Homo sapiens: one gene and its partners. The protein of the gene in region 1 purifies or fractionates together with the protein of each later gene. This does not show direct contact. Each region holds a gene or a part of one and is shown in the gene's direction. Other genes may lie near its edges.

Region 1 (5,573 bases):
TGTATCAATTTCCAGGTGCAGGTGGGATGTTTTCAGTTTTGGGTTTTTTTTGTTTGCTTTTTTGAGATGGAGTTTCGCTCTTGTGGCCTAGGCTAGAGTGCAATGGCGCAATCTCGGCTCACCGCAACCTCTGCCTCCCAGGTTCAAGCGATTCTCCTGCCTGAGCCTTCCTGAGTAGCTGGGATTACAGGCATGCACCACCACCAAGCCCGGCTAATTTTGTATTTTTAGTAGAGACGGGGTTTCTCCATGTTGGTCAGGCTGGTCTCGAACTCCCGACCTCAGATGATCCGCACGCCTCAGCCTCCCAAGGTGCTGGGATTACAGGTGTGAGCCACCACGCCCGGCTGTTTTCAGACAGTTTTTTTAAAGCAGTGGTCCCCAACCTTTCTGGCACCAGGGACTAGTTTCTTGGAAGACAGTTTTTCCATGGGGGTGGGGGTTTGGGGTGGCCAGATAGTTTCAGGATGAAGCTGTTCCACCTCTGATCATCAGGCATTCAATTCTCATAAGGAGTGCCCAACCTAGATCCCTCACATGCGCAGTTCACAGTAGGGTTCACACTCCTATGAGAATCTAGTGCCTTGGATGATCTGATGGGAGGTGGAGCTCAGACAATAATGCTCGCTTACCTGCCATTCACCTCCTGCTGTGCAGCCTGGTTCCTAACAGGTCACAGACTAGAACTGGTCTGCGGCAGGAATTTAGAGTTTCACAAAATCTTCTTGACAGTTGGAGATACACAGTAGACACAGGGGCCTGTATAACAATCTTGGAGGACAAGGAGGGGAGTTGGGGGGCACAGCTGAGGACAGAATGAAATTTTAAAGTGGGCATTAACTTGAAAAGTTGAGAAAACTACTTGGGCAGGGATAGTTGACAGGCACAGCTTGCCTTTTTTTGGAGTGAGGCTGACTGAAGTCCCCGGGCTCTCAAACCAGCAAGGCAGGGTCTTCTCCCCTAAGACTAATGAAGATGGAAATCTGGCCTTGGCCTCATTGTCTCCCGGGCTCCTTTCACCAGCATCCTGTGCTCCTGACTGAGGCGCCTTTAAACCCACGAAAAAACCGGGAACGAGCTGCCGAAGTTTTCTTCGAGACCTTCAATGTGCCCGCTCTTTTCATCTCCATGCAAGCTGTACTCAGCCTGTGAGTAGCAGCTGGCTAGCCCGGCCCCTGCGGGGAAAGCAGTCCTTTGGCACAGCTGAGGCTGGCTCTCCTCTGGAATGGTTCAGAGTAACTTGAGCCCCCTCTGCTAGGGAAAGGTTAAAGATGGTGGGAAAGAGAGAGAGGCTTTTGCTGAAACTGAGCACTGAGGCTTCGTAGTTGAAAGCAAAGAAGGACATGTGGCTGCTATTGACCATATCCCAGTGTCAGGACTCCTAGTGGGTTTGGTCCCCAAGGCCTTGGCTGGGCCTGCCGAGGCAGCCACATGCTGCAGCAGCTCTTCCCGGAGGCCCCCGTAATGTGTCCACTTATTATTCAGCACTTACTGTGGCCAGCTGCTCTGCCAGGCTGTGAGACAACCATGATCCGAATGCCACCACAGTCCTTGTTCCCATCCCCCGTGGCTCCTGTCACACTCCTACCCCACCTCACACCAGAGTGAGGTCTACGGCAGAGATTATCCACAAGTGACCTACACGTGGGATTTATTTGACCCCATTAACAAACTGTGAGCCAGCATTTAAAAATCAAGAGGTGTCCCATCAAAACCCAAATTTTTGGCTTCTCTGAAAAAATGGGAAGATCTGGGAAGGTCGGGCACACATTCCCACAGGGCAAAAATCAGCTGGAGCTGAAGAGCGGCTGCCACTTGAGATGGGGCTGGCAAGCCCACCCTCCCCACAGCCTGTCCATGCTCTGTTGGCCTCTCCGCACTGAAGCAGGGGGTCAGTTGCCTCACTTGCCTTTTTTTGGAGGGAGGCTGACAAAGGTCCCCGGGCTCTCAAACCAGTAAAGCAGGGTCTTCTCCTGCCTTTGTTTTTTATGGAAGTGAAAAATATTCTTATTTTTCTTTACTCTTACTTTTCCTGCCTGGCCCCTGTTGACATTTGAGGGTTTTTGCCTTTTGTCTAGAGAGTTAAAACTGGCCCCTAGGCTGGGTCTCTGAAGCAGCTGAAGGCCAGGCCATCTCAGACAGGAAGGCCTGCTCTTCTGGGTACGGGGAGGGAACTTGGAGAAGATCAGCAACTTCCGTTCAGGTATTTCATGGCTTGCTCCAACACCTGGGCTTCCTTAGTACCCAGTCCATTCTACAGACCCTGGAGAGAGGCAGGCCCAAGCTTTAGTTTAGCTGACATTGAACCCTAAATAAAGAAGTGTATTTCTTCCCAGCGTGAGGAGGCAGTGCTGAGTGACGGTTTGCCCCTTTGCTTCAGTTACGCTACAGGCAGGACCACAGGGGTGGTGCTGGATTCTGGGGATGGAGTCACCCATGCTGTGCCCATCTATGAGGGCTTTGCCATGCCCCACTCCATCATGCGCATCGACATCGCGGGCCGGGACGTCTCTCGCTTCCTGCGCCTCTACCTGCGTAAGGAGGGCTACGACTTCCACTCATCCTCTGAGTTTGAGATTGTCAAGGCCATAAAAGAAGTAAGTGCTGCCCCCTGGGCCTAGGGATGGAGTGGGGGTTGGGAGCATAGCACCCAGGACCTTGGTGACCTGCCAGTGAAGCCAGGCAAAGCACCTGCCTGGGGGTCCCTGGTGAGGCCTTGTTCTTCCCAGCCAGGTCTCCCCTACGTCACACTGACAGATTCGCCTTCCTGACGTGCTGCCATCTTGTTGGGGGAAAGGGAGCTGCTTCCATTTCTTCAGTTGGGTGATGGCTACATAGGGGCTCAGTATGTTTTTTATACCTTATATGCAAATTACATAGGGTTTGGTTTTGTTTCATTTTGTTTTGTTTCTGAGATGGAGTCTCGCTCTGTCGCCCAGGCTGCAGTGCAATGGTGTGATCTCGGCTCACTGTAACCTCTGCCTCCCGGGTTCAAGCAATCGCTTGAATCCTGCCTCAGCCTCCCAAGTAGCTGGGATTATAGGTGCCTGCCACCACACCCCACTAATTTTTGTATTTTTAGCAGAGACATGGTTTCACCATGTTGATCAGGCTGGTCTCAAACTCCTGACCACAAGTGATCTGCCCGCCTCAGCCTCCCAAAGTGCTAGAATTGCAGCATGAGCTACCGCGCCCACTCCTGGTTTTTTTATTTTTATTTTTTTAACATCCTTGAAGAAGTCATAATACATTTAAAACATTTGTCTTTGTAAGTAAACTGAAACCTCCTGCCACCTGTGGCTATAGGGAAAACTCGAGCTGGGTAGGACCAGAACCATATGAGTGGTAGAAGGAGAAAGATGCCTGGGCCTGGGCTGAACTTAGGTTGTGGTCTCAGACCTAGGATCCAGGGGCCAAGTTTCCAAGCTTGCCCATCAGGAAGGTGGAGCGGTTAAGAACTCATATGCTAAATGCCACCCAGTGAAGGCCAACAGAGACCTCACTGCCCCTGCTTCTGGGCAGCAGCTATAGTGACCATTGGGGCCATCACAACGTTTAGACAGGTTTGTGCAGCAGCACATTCCTCCCCTGGGCCTTTGACTGGATGTGCACCAGATTTCCTGCCAGCCTGACTGTCTTGCTTGGATCTGCAGAGAGCCTGTTACCTATCCATAAACCCCCAAAAGGATGAGACGCTAGAGACAGAGAAAGCTCAGTACTACCTGCCTGATGGCAGCACCATTGAGGTAGGTGGCCTGCCTTCTTTCTTCGGTCCCCTTAGGTCCACAAAAGCTCTGGGCCCAACCAGAATTCTCCATCAGGGTCTGGAGTCTGGCAGGCCAGTCCCTTTACACCAAGCTTGTCCAACCCCTGGCCCATGGGCTGCACGTGGCCCAGGATGGCTTTCAGTAAGGCCCAACACAAAGTCGTAAACTTTCTTAAAACATTATGAGATTCTTTTGCAATTTTTTTTTTTAGCTCAGCAGCTGTCATTAGTGTTAGTGTATATTATGTGTGGCCCAAGACAATTCTTCTTCCAATGTGGCCCAGGGAAGCCAAAAGACTGGACACCCCAGCCTTACACCCTCTCTCTGGAGCAGCAGAGCTCCTGAGCATGAGTGGCCCTGTCTCCTGCAGAGGAGGCAGCCAGAACTTTGCTCCCTCCCGCTAGAGGGGAGGAAGCTCCTAAGGGATTGTCCCACATCAGTATGAGATTAGGAAGTGGGATGGTTAGTGCCATCCTTCACCACACCTGGGTGCAGTGTAGGGTGAGTTACCACTCCCTTGAACCCCCATTGCTAGGAAGACGTTTCCATGAGCAAATAAATCCATGTACTGATGCCAAAGACCTCTTGGCTGGAAAATGCCAGAGCGAGAAGGAAATATAGGAGCCTCCCCTCACTAGTTTCCAGGAGGCCTATCTTTGTTCCTTTAAGCCCTTGACATGTAGAGTCTGTCTTGAGCCTGGCCTTCATAGCCACCCAGTTACTAAGTGACGTGCAGAGGGGCGTCTTCCATTCCCACTCCCAAAGGGACCTTGGTCCCAGCTCCGACCTCTTCAGCTGGCCCTCCTACCTGCAGATTGGTCCTTCCCGATTCCGGGCCCCTGAGTTGCTCTTCAGGCCAGATTTGATTGGAGAGGAGAGTGAAGGCATCCACGAGGTCCTGGTGTTCGCCATTCAGAAGTCAGACATGGACCTGCGGCGCACGCTTTTCTCTAACATTGTCCTCTCAGGAGGCTCTACCCTGTTCAAAGGTTTGTCTCTTCTCTTGGAGCCCTTCCCCTGGAAGTGTTCAGCTCCTGCTGGCTCCAGGCACCCTGAGAATTGACTTGAAGTTCTCCTCTTTGCCCATTCAGGTTTTGGTGACAGGCTCCTGAGTGAAGTGAAGAAACTAGCTCCAAAAGATGTGAAGATCAGGGTAGGAGCATGGTGGGGCCTGGCCTGGGTGGAACTAGGCTTCCATGGACAGAGTGCCACCTGGCGTAGCTTCCCTCTAGCTTTGCCCAAGCTCTTCAAGCAGCCATGGCTCTACAAGCAGCGCCAGGTTCCCAGCCTGTACACTGACCCTGAGGTCTAGGTCAGCCACAGGGAGGCTGAGTTCTCATTCTCCCTCTTCACACCAAAGGCAGGCAGTTCTAATACCCAGATGAGGCAGGGTACTAGGTAGAGGGCCCCCTGCGTGATCTTTCAGGGAAACTATAATCTTAAGAGGAGACTGACTTACTGTTGCTGTGCCCCCTGCCCAGGTGGCTCCCCTGTCACACAGTCTGACACCTTAGTGATAGGTGAAGGAGGTTGGCTGTCTGAGGAGAGCGGGGATCCTAAAGGAAGGAGTACAGTTCTTGCCATGGAGTCTGCTTCTCCCTGCCCCCCCCAATAGTCCCAGCTTCCCTGGGACCTGTGGGGACTGGAAACCTGCTTCCCCAGATGAGTGGCAGGCTGGCCACAGTGCCCTCCAGAGAGGCCAGAGCTTCAGGCTTGTGTAAAATGTATCCCCTGCCATGGGCAGAAAGAGGAGCATTGTAGGGAAAGGGAGCGGGAGGGCTGGAAGTCTCAGATTCCTCTTTCCCC
Region 2 (2,402 bases), on another chromosome or scaffold:
AAAAGATCTTCAACCTTTCGGGAGGAGAGAAAACACTTAGTTCATTGGCTTTAGTATTTGCTCTTCACCACTACAAGCCCACTCCCCTTTACTTCATGGATGAGATTGATGCAGCCCTTGATTTTAAAAATGTGTCCATTGTTGCATTTTATATATATGTAAGTAATCATTTTGGGATTTTCATTCCAGAAACTTTTAGGGGTATCCTAAACATTACACATGGAATTCTTTATTTCTTACAATTGAGCTTTTTCTTTATTGTCTAATAACTCCATCTCCATCTCCTCTGGTATCAGTGGAGACCAAATTATTTTTTATTTGAACCAAATATTTCCATTTTGGAGGAGTAAAATATAAATTAAAAATGCAAATTAGTAGCAGAATCACAGCTAGAATCCTAGGTCATCTTCCTAGATCTTTTCCACTAGAAGTCAAAATAACCAAATTCCTTTCACACTCAAATACTGTTTTATGAATTATTCCTGCCATCATTCCTTTACATGTTATCAATGTAATGTTTATTGTCCAAAAAATATTTGAGGTTACATGTTTGTGTGATTTACCTGTTATTACTTAATGTTTGACTTTTCTTTGTTTCTCTTTAGGAACAAACAAAAAATGCACAGTTCATAATAATTTCTCTTCGAAATAATATGTTTGAGATTTCGGATAGACTTATTGGAATTTACAAGACATACAACATAACAAAAAGTGTTGCTGTAAATCCAAAAGAAATTGCATCTAAGGGACTTTGTTGAACTTTATGCTGAAGATTCTTCAAGTTGATTCAGTGTATTACTGATTTTTTTCTATTTGTAAAGGATTATGAGTTGTATAAAATACATACTCCCTAAACTAGATCATGAAACTGGTTTCTGTTTTATGCAGTTGTCATTTGTAAAGTCTAATAAAATATTCTCTATAATTGCTTCTAGATTACAAAAATATGACAATCTTGTAAGTAGCAGACTATGGAGAAAAATGAGTTACCTGGAGGGTCAGGTAACTTGCCAAACTAAAAAGTATGTTAGTTGAGGCAAAGTCCTAAGCAAGGTTGTGCTATCAAGGCTCAGCATACCTTCGTGGGCCTTTGATTTACCAACACTGGAAATGCCTGCCAACTAATCTTGGATAGATTCTTTAAGGCATTCCACTTAGCTTGCCAGTTGAGACAATCACCACAGTTATTACCCAAATACTATGAACATATTTTTGTAAACCAGTCATTCTGAATTATAGTGATGAGAATTTAAATATATGCTTTTCTAGAATTTGATGTTTGACCATTTATGACTTAATTACCAGAGAGCCAGTAAATTAGGACAGTGTTTCAACAAGCCTAGGCTATCTCGTAAGTTGAAAAATATCCCACTATAGTTGCTTCATGAGTATGAAGTAAGATGGCCTCTGATTTACACTGGTTCAATTTACAAATTTTCAACTTTATGATAGGTTTATCCGGGTACTAAATGCATTTCAACTTGATAGTTTCAACTTATGATAGGTTTACCAGGATGTAGTCCCACTGTTGAGGAGCATCTATTTAGGGGTTAATTACTTTAGTAATAAGTGGAAAGTAAGATACCTTGAGTAATGTTTGCCTATAAAATTGTCAGCGTATTTTTACACTATTGGCTCAAGAATGTTATAATGCTAAGGGACATAAGTTGGCAACCACTTGGTTTTTGGAAGGACTTTCGGTATTGTATTAGAAGTCTGCCCTAGCTGTTAAATTTCTGGGTATTTATCCTAAGGAATTAATTAAAGAGTTAATTGTTCCTTTCTTCAGTGGGCCATTGTTTTAGATATTTAAAAAATCCAACAGTTTCTATCATAATGTAACTGTAAAAATGTAAACACATTATTAGCATGGACTTTTAAATAAAGATTTAAAGAAAGCAAGATCGGAAATTCAAGTACGGTAATTTGTTCTAAATCAAGAATATATAAGGGAAAAGTAAGTTTAAAGTGCTATAATGATAATCAAGTGTTTTCATTTGGTGCGAAAATAGAATTTAATACTTTTATTATATTTTAATAACCAATGCAGTAGAGCTCAGATTTTTTTTTTTTTTTTGAAAGTCTCACTGCATCACCCAGGGTGGAGTGCTGTGGCAAGATCTTGGCTCACTGCAACCCTGCCTCACGGGTTCAAGCGATTCAAGTGCCTCAGCCACATGAGTAGCTGGGACTACAGGTGCACACCACAGTGCCCAGCTAATTTTTGTGTTTTTGGTAGACAGGGTTTTGCCATGTTGGCCAAGCTGGTCTCAAACTCCTGGCCTCAAGTGATCTGCCTGCCTCAGCCTCCCAAAGTGCTGGACTATAGGCATGAGCCACTGCACCCAGCCTGCAGTACTAAGTTTCAAAGAATTAGAAGTACCCAGAACCCATGTGAAAAT
Region 3 (3,500 bases), on another chromosome or scaffold:
GAGAAGGGTGGGTAGGTTAGATATTCTGGGGGTAATGGAAAACTTGCGGTTGAGGCAGAGCACTTTGTAATAAAAAATTTTAGATATGACTAGTGGTATTTTACAACAGGGAAGAGAAAATACACATCTCTGTAGTTTAAAGATAAGCAAGTTCTGCTCTGAGTCTCAAATAGTCAACATAAGCATACCATATATTTTGGTTACTAAGGATCCCCAATATAGGGCACCTAAAGGACAATTTGTATCATAAATCTCTCCTCAAATTAATAATAGCTAATTTTGCCTAAAAACTAATATTGCAGGGACATTAAATGTCTGCTTCGAATAGCCTATTTTTAAAAAGAGGATTTTAAAGAAAATGTAAATTGCTGATTTCTTTCTATTTTAATAATTTCCCCTGGTACAAATAAAGCTTTCAGAATCCCTCAGTTGATGTGAATATAGAAAGTACAGGGCACCAAAGAACTAAAGGACAGGTAAAAGACAGTGAGATATGAGACTTCAATCTTAATTTATGCAGCATGAATTGGATACATTGGTGGGAAATAATCAAGTAAAATGAAGGGATTACTTATATGTTAGCTTAGTTGGTTAGTATATTGTATCTGTGAATCATAATACTATTGCTTGGACTTTTTTCCTGATGGATTTAGTAATTATTATTGTATATACAAGTGGCTTTTATAGAATGCTTTTTGTTATGTAAGTTTCTTTACTTTTGGCTGTTTTCAAATCATAGATGGGTTGGACTTCTACCATTAGTTGTGAAGTTGCCGTATAATACTCTTTTATTTTAAAATACCAAAAGTACACCCTTCTCTGATTTAATAATAGTACTATATGTATTAAATGATGATTGCTTTTAGAATATATCTTCCATATTTTGAAGCAGGAAAATTTCTATTTTTAAAGTGGTCATTTCTGTTTCAGTAGGTGTATTCTATCCTTTTATAATTCTTCAGCATGATTAAAATTTTCCTCATCTTATTATTTTTTTAAGGGTCTGAAAAGCCCTCAAGAAAGCCTCAGTGATCTTGGTGCCATAGAGAGTCTCCGGGTCCCTGGAAAGGTATTGAGCTACACGTGTGAGCGTGACTTTTTACTTCCTTAAGAAAATATGATTGCCTCTGGATAGTAATTGATTCACAGAAGCTTTTCTTTCCCACAGGCAGATGGTTGTTAAGATAAGCTAGGTAAATTTTTATTGTATAGTAGGTGTAGGGCTTGTTTCATTACACGTTGGGATGCAGTATGTATGATGCATTATAGCAAAGCAAAAAATGCAAACTTGATAAATTTGGAATTTATTATATTAAATTCTTAGCCTGAAAGCAGTTGTATATATGTGTATGCACACACACACACACACACACACACACACACACTCTCTCTCTCTCTCTCTCTCATTGATTTATCTGCTGTAATTTGTAGAAATAAAGTGAAATAGTTGACTACTGACTTTTTATACTCCTAACATTCTGTGCCAAAAATCATGATTATATTTTTGTTGTGGAGCAGAGGTTTTTGAAAAAGCATCTAAACCATAGTATTTATACTGAATTGTATAACTTATCTCCTAGATTGTAGGTATTTTAGATTTTAATCCTCTGATATTCACGTGAATTTCTCAGTTTACAAATTTTATATAGGTTATTTGAAAGCTAGCTAGATTCCCCTTGGAATTATTAAGTATTGTTAAATCCCTGCTGTTTTTCTGGAGTGTTGCTGCTTGGAGCTGCCCATGTGAATAGCTGCTCCATCACAGATTAAGCTGGCACTTCTGAATGTCTGTTTTTGTATTTTTTAATTTGAGAGTGATACGTGAAAATACTGTTTGTTTTCTGCATCAGGCATTTGAATACACAGGGTGTGCTTCTCTTGATCAGCAGTTTAAGGCCTCTCCTTACACCTCGGTGTCAGCTCCTTAGGAGGATGATTTCTCATCTCTTTCAGGTGCCTTACCTGCTAAAGTGAATTTTGTATTTACTGCATTGTTTTTATTTTGGGTTAGGCTGAAACATATTCTCCAAATGCAATAAAATTATAACCAACCCTTTTGCATGAAATGGTTCAGACAAAAACTTAAGAAAAGCATTCCGTATAGTTTTATGTAATGTTATTAAAAATTAATGACTATGAAAAGGTTGGGAAACAAGAGATAGCCATAAATCCTAATTAATTGACAATAATTCTCTTTATTTCTTTGAGTTAAGAAAAAGATTATCATGCATTATGAACATACCTTGAATTAGATTGTATTACATATTGCAGAATCAATGTCAAATTGATGAGTGAGCCTCTTTAAAAAAATACATTACAGTCTTAACAAGAACTTTCTGTTGTGTTTCCACCATGAGCCATGATGTTTTCCCAGTACTGGTTGGTAGTGAATATGGTGATCTCATTACAAAGTCTTCTTATTAAATGTACACCCCTAGCTCCATCAGTGACCAGTGCTGTCTGTACTTTTAGGATAACTGGCCTTGGGTGGAGTGGCCAGTCTGGGATCACAAGGTCAGCAAATATAAATGGTTCAGGTGAAGAGTAAGCCTAAAGCACTGGTCTCTTTAGCACATACTAAGAAGCTAAGTTAGTTAAATAATAAAACAGTTAATAGTAAAAAATGTATTGATGCTATAAGCTTACATTTAACCTTACACTAAGAAATCCCTACAAGCTTCATCTGCCTGTTTGTTTTTTCTGTGTTCTCCTATAGCATAACAAATGATGGAGGGTGAGCAGAGCTTCTGCCTTCTTTCTGGGTGGTTCTGAGAACATGAGAGTTGCTGGGTCCAGAGAGTGGCAAAGCTCCAGTCAGTAAACTGAGTCTTTGGATGAGGTTTGAAGTCAGTACTGAGATCAGGAGTTAAGAAGACTCATATTCAGAAATTCCCTACACAGCATAGCTTGATGTAGCTTTAATGTTCAGTATTTTTTCACAATTTAGATAAGACTTTATACTTAGATCATAACACATATATTTTAATGATTTATTTTTGTATAATTGCTTTGAAATTAATGTTGTTGCTAGTTCTTGATGACCTGAAATTTGATGTAATTGAAGAAGATCTTTAAGATCTTTTAAAATTAAGATTAAAAGCATTTTAACAAAATGGAAAATGTTAATTCAAATGATTATTTTGAAATAACTTTTGCTTTAAATATAAAATTAATGTATGCTCTAAACAGAAAACATGGTAAACGGAAAAAGGTATCTTAAAAAAAAAATCACAAAAATCACCAACACTGTCAAGGTTAACATTGCCTACTGGTCTTTTCCCTATGCATATTCCACAAATTTATTGAGTTTCTATGTGCTAGAGATACTTTCTAGGGATTGGCAGTATAGCAGTGAAAAGACAAAAGTTCTCTCCAAAAGTCAAAACTTCCCTGCTGTCAGACAGCGAGCTTACATTCAAGCAGGGGTAAGGCGATTACAGATTATAATACTGTGAAGGAAACAGGGCGATGAGATAAACTCCTTGAAATTGGCAGTTATT
Region 4 (3,252 bases), on another chromosome or scaffold:
GAGCATCTGGCAGGCAGGGGGGCAGGTACACACACACCCACAGGCACACCCACCAGTACACACGCGTGCGCATACACACATTTTGGTTTGACGCCCTGTTTTCAGTGGCCTGGGGAGGTCCACACTGGAAGTCGAATTCCAGCTCGCCTTGTTGACTCGCCTGTGTCCACCGGCCATGAGGAGCCCACGCCTGTCCTCCCCATCACTTTCCTGTCCCTGAGAACTGTAGATCATGCGCTTGTGAGCGAGGCCCTCCCCTCTGCACCAGCTCATTGCAAAGCGAACATCCTCTCCTTTCCAGGAGCCCCAGGATTAGCATCTGAAAAGGGTAGCACTTCCTTTTTTGTTGTTGTTTTTTTTTTTTTTTTGAGACGGGAGTCTCGCTCTATTGTTCAGACTGGAGTGCAGTGGCATGATCTCGGCTCACTACAACCTCCACCTCCTGGGTTCCAGCGATTCTCCTGCCTCAGCCTCCCAAATAGCTGTGATTACAGGCGTGCACCACCACGCCCGGCTAATGTTTGTATTTTTAGTAGAGACAGGGTTTCACCGTGTTGGTCAGGCTGGTCTCAAACTCCTGACCTCAGGTGATCCGCCCGCCTCAGCCTCCCAAAGTGCTGAGATTACAGGTGTGAGCTACCGCACCCCGCCGAGGTTAGCACTTTCATCACCAAAGACCCCGTGCCTCTCGTGGTCCTTTGAGGGATCCCGCCGCCACCACCCTTGTATTTTATCACGTGCTCTTCAGGGCATGTGGAATTCGTTGAGTTTGCTTTTAGAGCCAAGTTTCTTTCCCTGTGTGGGTTTTTGAGGAAAACCTGAGGTCCCCTAATCTGTGGCCACCACCCCCCCCCCCCGCCACGCCTTAGAGCAGAGCAGCCCCTCCTCTCATTTGGTGCAGAAACAGTCAAGAGGAACCATTGGCCTAGAGCTCCTGTGACCGAGAGCGCCACGGAAGCCTGGGGATGACGTCGGGCAGCTTTATTCTTTGCTTGGCTTTGGTAACTAGGTGGTCCCCTCAAGCATCCTCAGTTCCTCTTGCTGTTTATGAATCTAAGACAAGGAAGTCCTATAGAAGCCAAAGGGACAGGGACGGAAAGGACAGGTCCCAAGGGATGGGGCTGTCTTTACTTGTGGAAACCAGGAAATTGCTCCTCTCAGCCAACCAAGGTTGACCACACACCACCCTTCCGGAGCAGCTCAGTCAGCCCTCGGGGACGAGAAACCACAAGCGCAGAGACGCTGAGGCCCAGGCAGGTGAAGAGGAAGTGGCTTTGGGTTTTTAAAGTAGGTGAGCGTGAGCCTCTCTGACTGCTTCTTCCCCGGGGGGGACTGCAAACCGCTCAGGGTTGCGGCAGAGCCATGGACTTCCGGTCCCTGCAACGGGTGACCTAAGCGTGGTGCACCCATCAGTCACGCAGGAGGACTGACTTGACAGACGAAAGACAAGCCCGGATGACACAGGGTGAGAAGAGTCAGGGCCGCACCTCTGTCCCTGCAAACCAACAGGTGCATGGTGAGTGTGGCAGTCCCCACAGCTCCACAATGGGCTCCCCCGCCAACGGGGACGACAGGGATCTTCAGGAACTTCTGACCTCACCAAGTCAAGTGGACCACTCTCCACTCCACGAGGATGTGAAACGGTTCTTTAAAATGGGATTTTAGAGCCTCGGGAATGCATGTGCGTCACATCTTTCATATTATGGGTCAGGATAGATTCATTTCTTGCAACATAGTGGAAAAGATATAAGCTGCAGTAATTTGCTCTTTGAATGACCGTCACCCCCAGTATAGGATATGCTTGTATCCCCCCGTCACTCCTCCGCCTGTTTTTTAAACTTTTCCACCACCTGCGTCCAAAAAGAATGTTATAGCGAGTGCTCTTAAATGTTGAACCTGGGTGTTGCTTCCGGGCCAGTCTGCGTGGCTCCATGAAAAGCTCACTGCTGCCCCAGCCGGGCTTCTTAGAGGAGGTCAGTTGTCCTATGTATCATCATTTACTCTGGGAATCCTACTGTGAAATCATGTCTGTATTTTTCTGGAGCAGTTCACATAGAGTAGAATGTGGAATTTCCCGTGAACGTCTCCTTCCTCCCCCGTATCTGCCGCCTGTCACTTCGCCACCGTGCTAGAATACTGTTGTGTTGTAAGATGACTAATTTTAAAAGAACCTGCCCTGAAAAGTTCTTAGAAACGCAGTGAAAGGGAGGAACTTGTCCTTTACCCAGTTTTTCCTTTGTAGGATGGGAAAGTATAAAAAGGCACAGAAGGTTGTCATGGGCTGTTCCTTGGGGGTTTTTATCCTGCTCACCGTGGAGATAAGCCTGCGGCTTGTCTAACCAGCGCAGCGCAAAGGTCTCGATGCCTTTTGGTAACATCCGTCATTGCAGAAGAAAGTTTACACGACGTCAAAAAGTGACGTTCATGCTAAGTGTTTTTCCAGAAATATTGGTTTCATGTTTCTTATTGGCTCTGCCTCCTGTGCTTATATCATCCAAAAACTTTTTAAAAAGGTCCAGAATTCTATTTTAACCTGATGTTGAGCACCTTTAAAATGTTCGTATGTGTGTTGCACTAATTCTAAACTTTGGAGGCATTTTGCTGTGTGAGGCCGATCGCCACTGTAAAGGTCCTAGAGTTGCCTGTTTGTCTCTGGAGATGGAATTAAACCAAATAAAGAGCTTCCACTGGAGGCTTGTATTGACCTTGTAACTATATGTTAATCTCGTGTTAAAATAAAATATAACTTGTGGCTCCGTGTCACGGGACTGTTTTGTTGCATGAAGATATGACCCTAGTTGTGGAAGCAGCCTGGTGTCATTGGAAGCCCCCTGGGCTGGGGAGCTGGCCCCTGGGAGGAGCTGGAGACCTAGATAGCTCTCAGTTCCACCCCCATCCACGGTGGAGGGGGAGGCTCTCAGACCGTGGTGACGTGGAATTCGGGCTGATGTAGTGCGAGGATTGCGAGAGGCTGCTTATGGCCAGGAGTATTTTTTGCATGCACATTCAACTGGTTGCTGCTCTAGCTCTTTGGGGACCTCATTGCTTGGGGCTGGGGCAGGAGGAGGTGGTGAAATGAGGGCACACCTGAGTTTCATTATTTATCTGGTATCACCAGTGCTCAAGCCGGTACTCCTGGTGGCGTGGCTGGAATCACTAGTTTCTGTGAAGCTGCAGGCAGTGCGGAGCTGTTTCACGTGGACAACTCGAAAGGGCAGCAGCCTTGTGCCTGGCACTGGCTGGACATGTGCA

The links. Proteins that work in one complex are often made in the same cells at the same time.
Region 2: the proteins of ACTR1A (region 1) and SMC4 fractionate together in Homo sapiens (co-fractionation; one large-scale study listed by BioGRID). This does not show direct contact.
Region 3: the proteins of ACTR1A (region 1) and VPS50 fractionate together in Homo sapiens (co-fractionation; one large-scale study listed by BioGRID). This does not show direct contact.
Region 4: the proteins of ACTR1A (region 1) and FNBP1 fractionate together in Homo sapiens (co-fractionation; one large-scale study listed by BioGRID). This does not show direct contact.

Annotation. Positions count from the first base shown.
Region 1 is NC_000010.11:102,481,184-102,486,756, reverse strand, and holds part of ACTR1A (alpha-centractin), read left to right. Parts: intron 1-1,023; coding exon 1,024-1,148; intron 1,149-2,380; coding exon 2,381-2,597; intron 2,598-3,653; coding exon 3,654-3,746; intron 3,747-4,581; coding exon 4,582-4,756; intron 4,757-4,858; coding exon 4,859-4,920; intron 4,921-5,573. UniProt on the Homo sapiens protein: Part of the ACTR1A/ACTB filament around which the dynactin complex is built. The dynactin multiprotein complex activates the molecular motor dynein for ultra-processive transport along microtubules.
Region 2 is NC_000003.12:160,433,052-160,435,453, forward strand, and holds the end of SMC4 (structural maintenance of chromosomes protein 4), read left to right. Parts: coding exon 1-158; intron 159-605; coding exon 606-758; 3' UTR 759-1,902; downstream 1,903-2,402. UniProt on the Homo sapiens protein: Central component of the condensin complex, a complex required for conversion of interphase chromatin into mitotic-like condense chromosomes.
Region 3 is NC_000007.14:93,238,866-93,242,365, forward strand, and holds part of VPS50 (syndetin), read left to right. Parts: intron 1-1,000; coding exon 1,001-1,069; exon of another isoform or gene 1,070-1,085; intron 1,086-3,500.
Region 4 is NC_000009.12:129,886,687-129,889,938, reverse strand, and holds the end of FNBP1 (formin-binding protein 1), read left to right. Parts: 3' UTR 1-2,752; downstream 2,753-3,252. UniProt on the Homo sapiens protein: May act as a link between RND2 signaling and regulation of the actin cytoskeleton. Required to coordinate membrane tubulation with reorganization of the actin cytoskeleton during the late stage of clathrin-mediated endocytosis.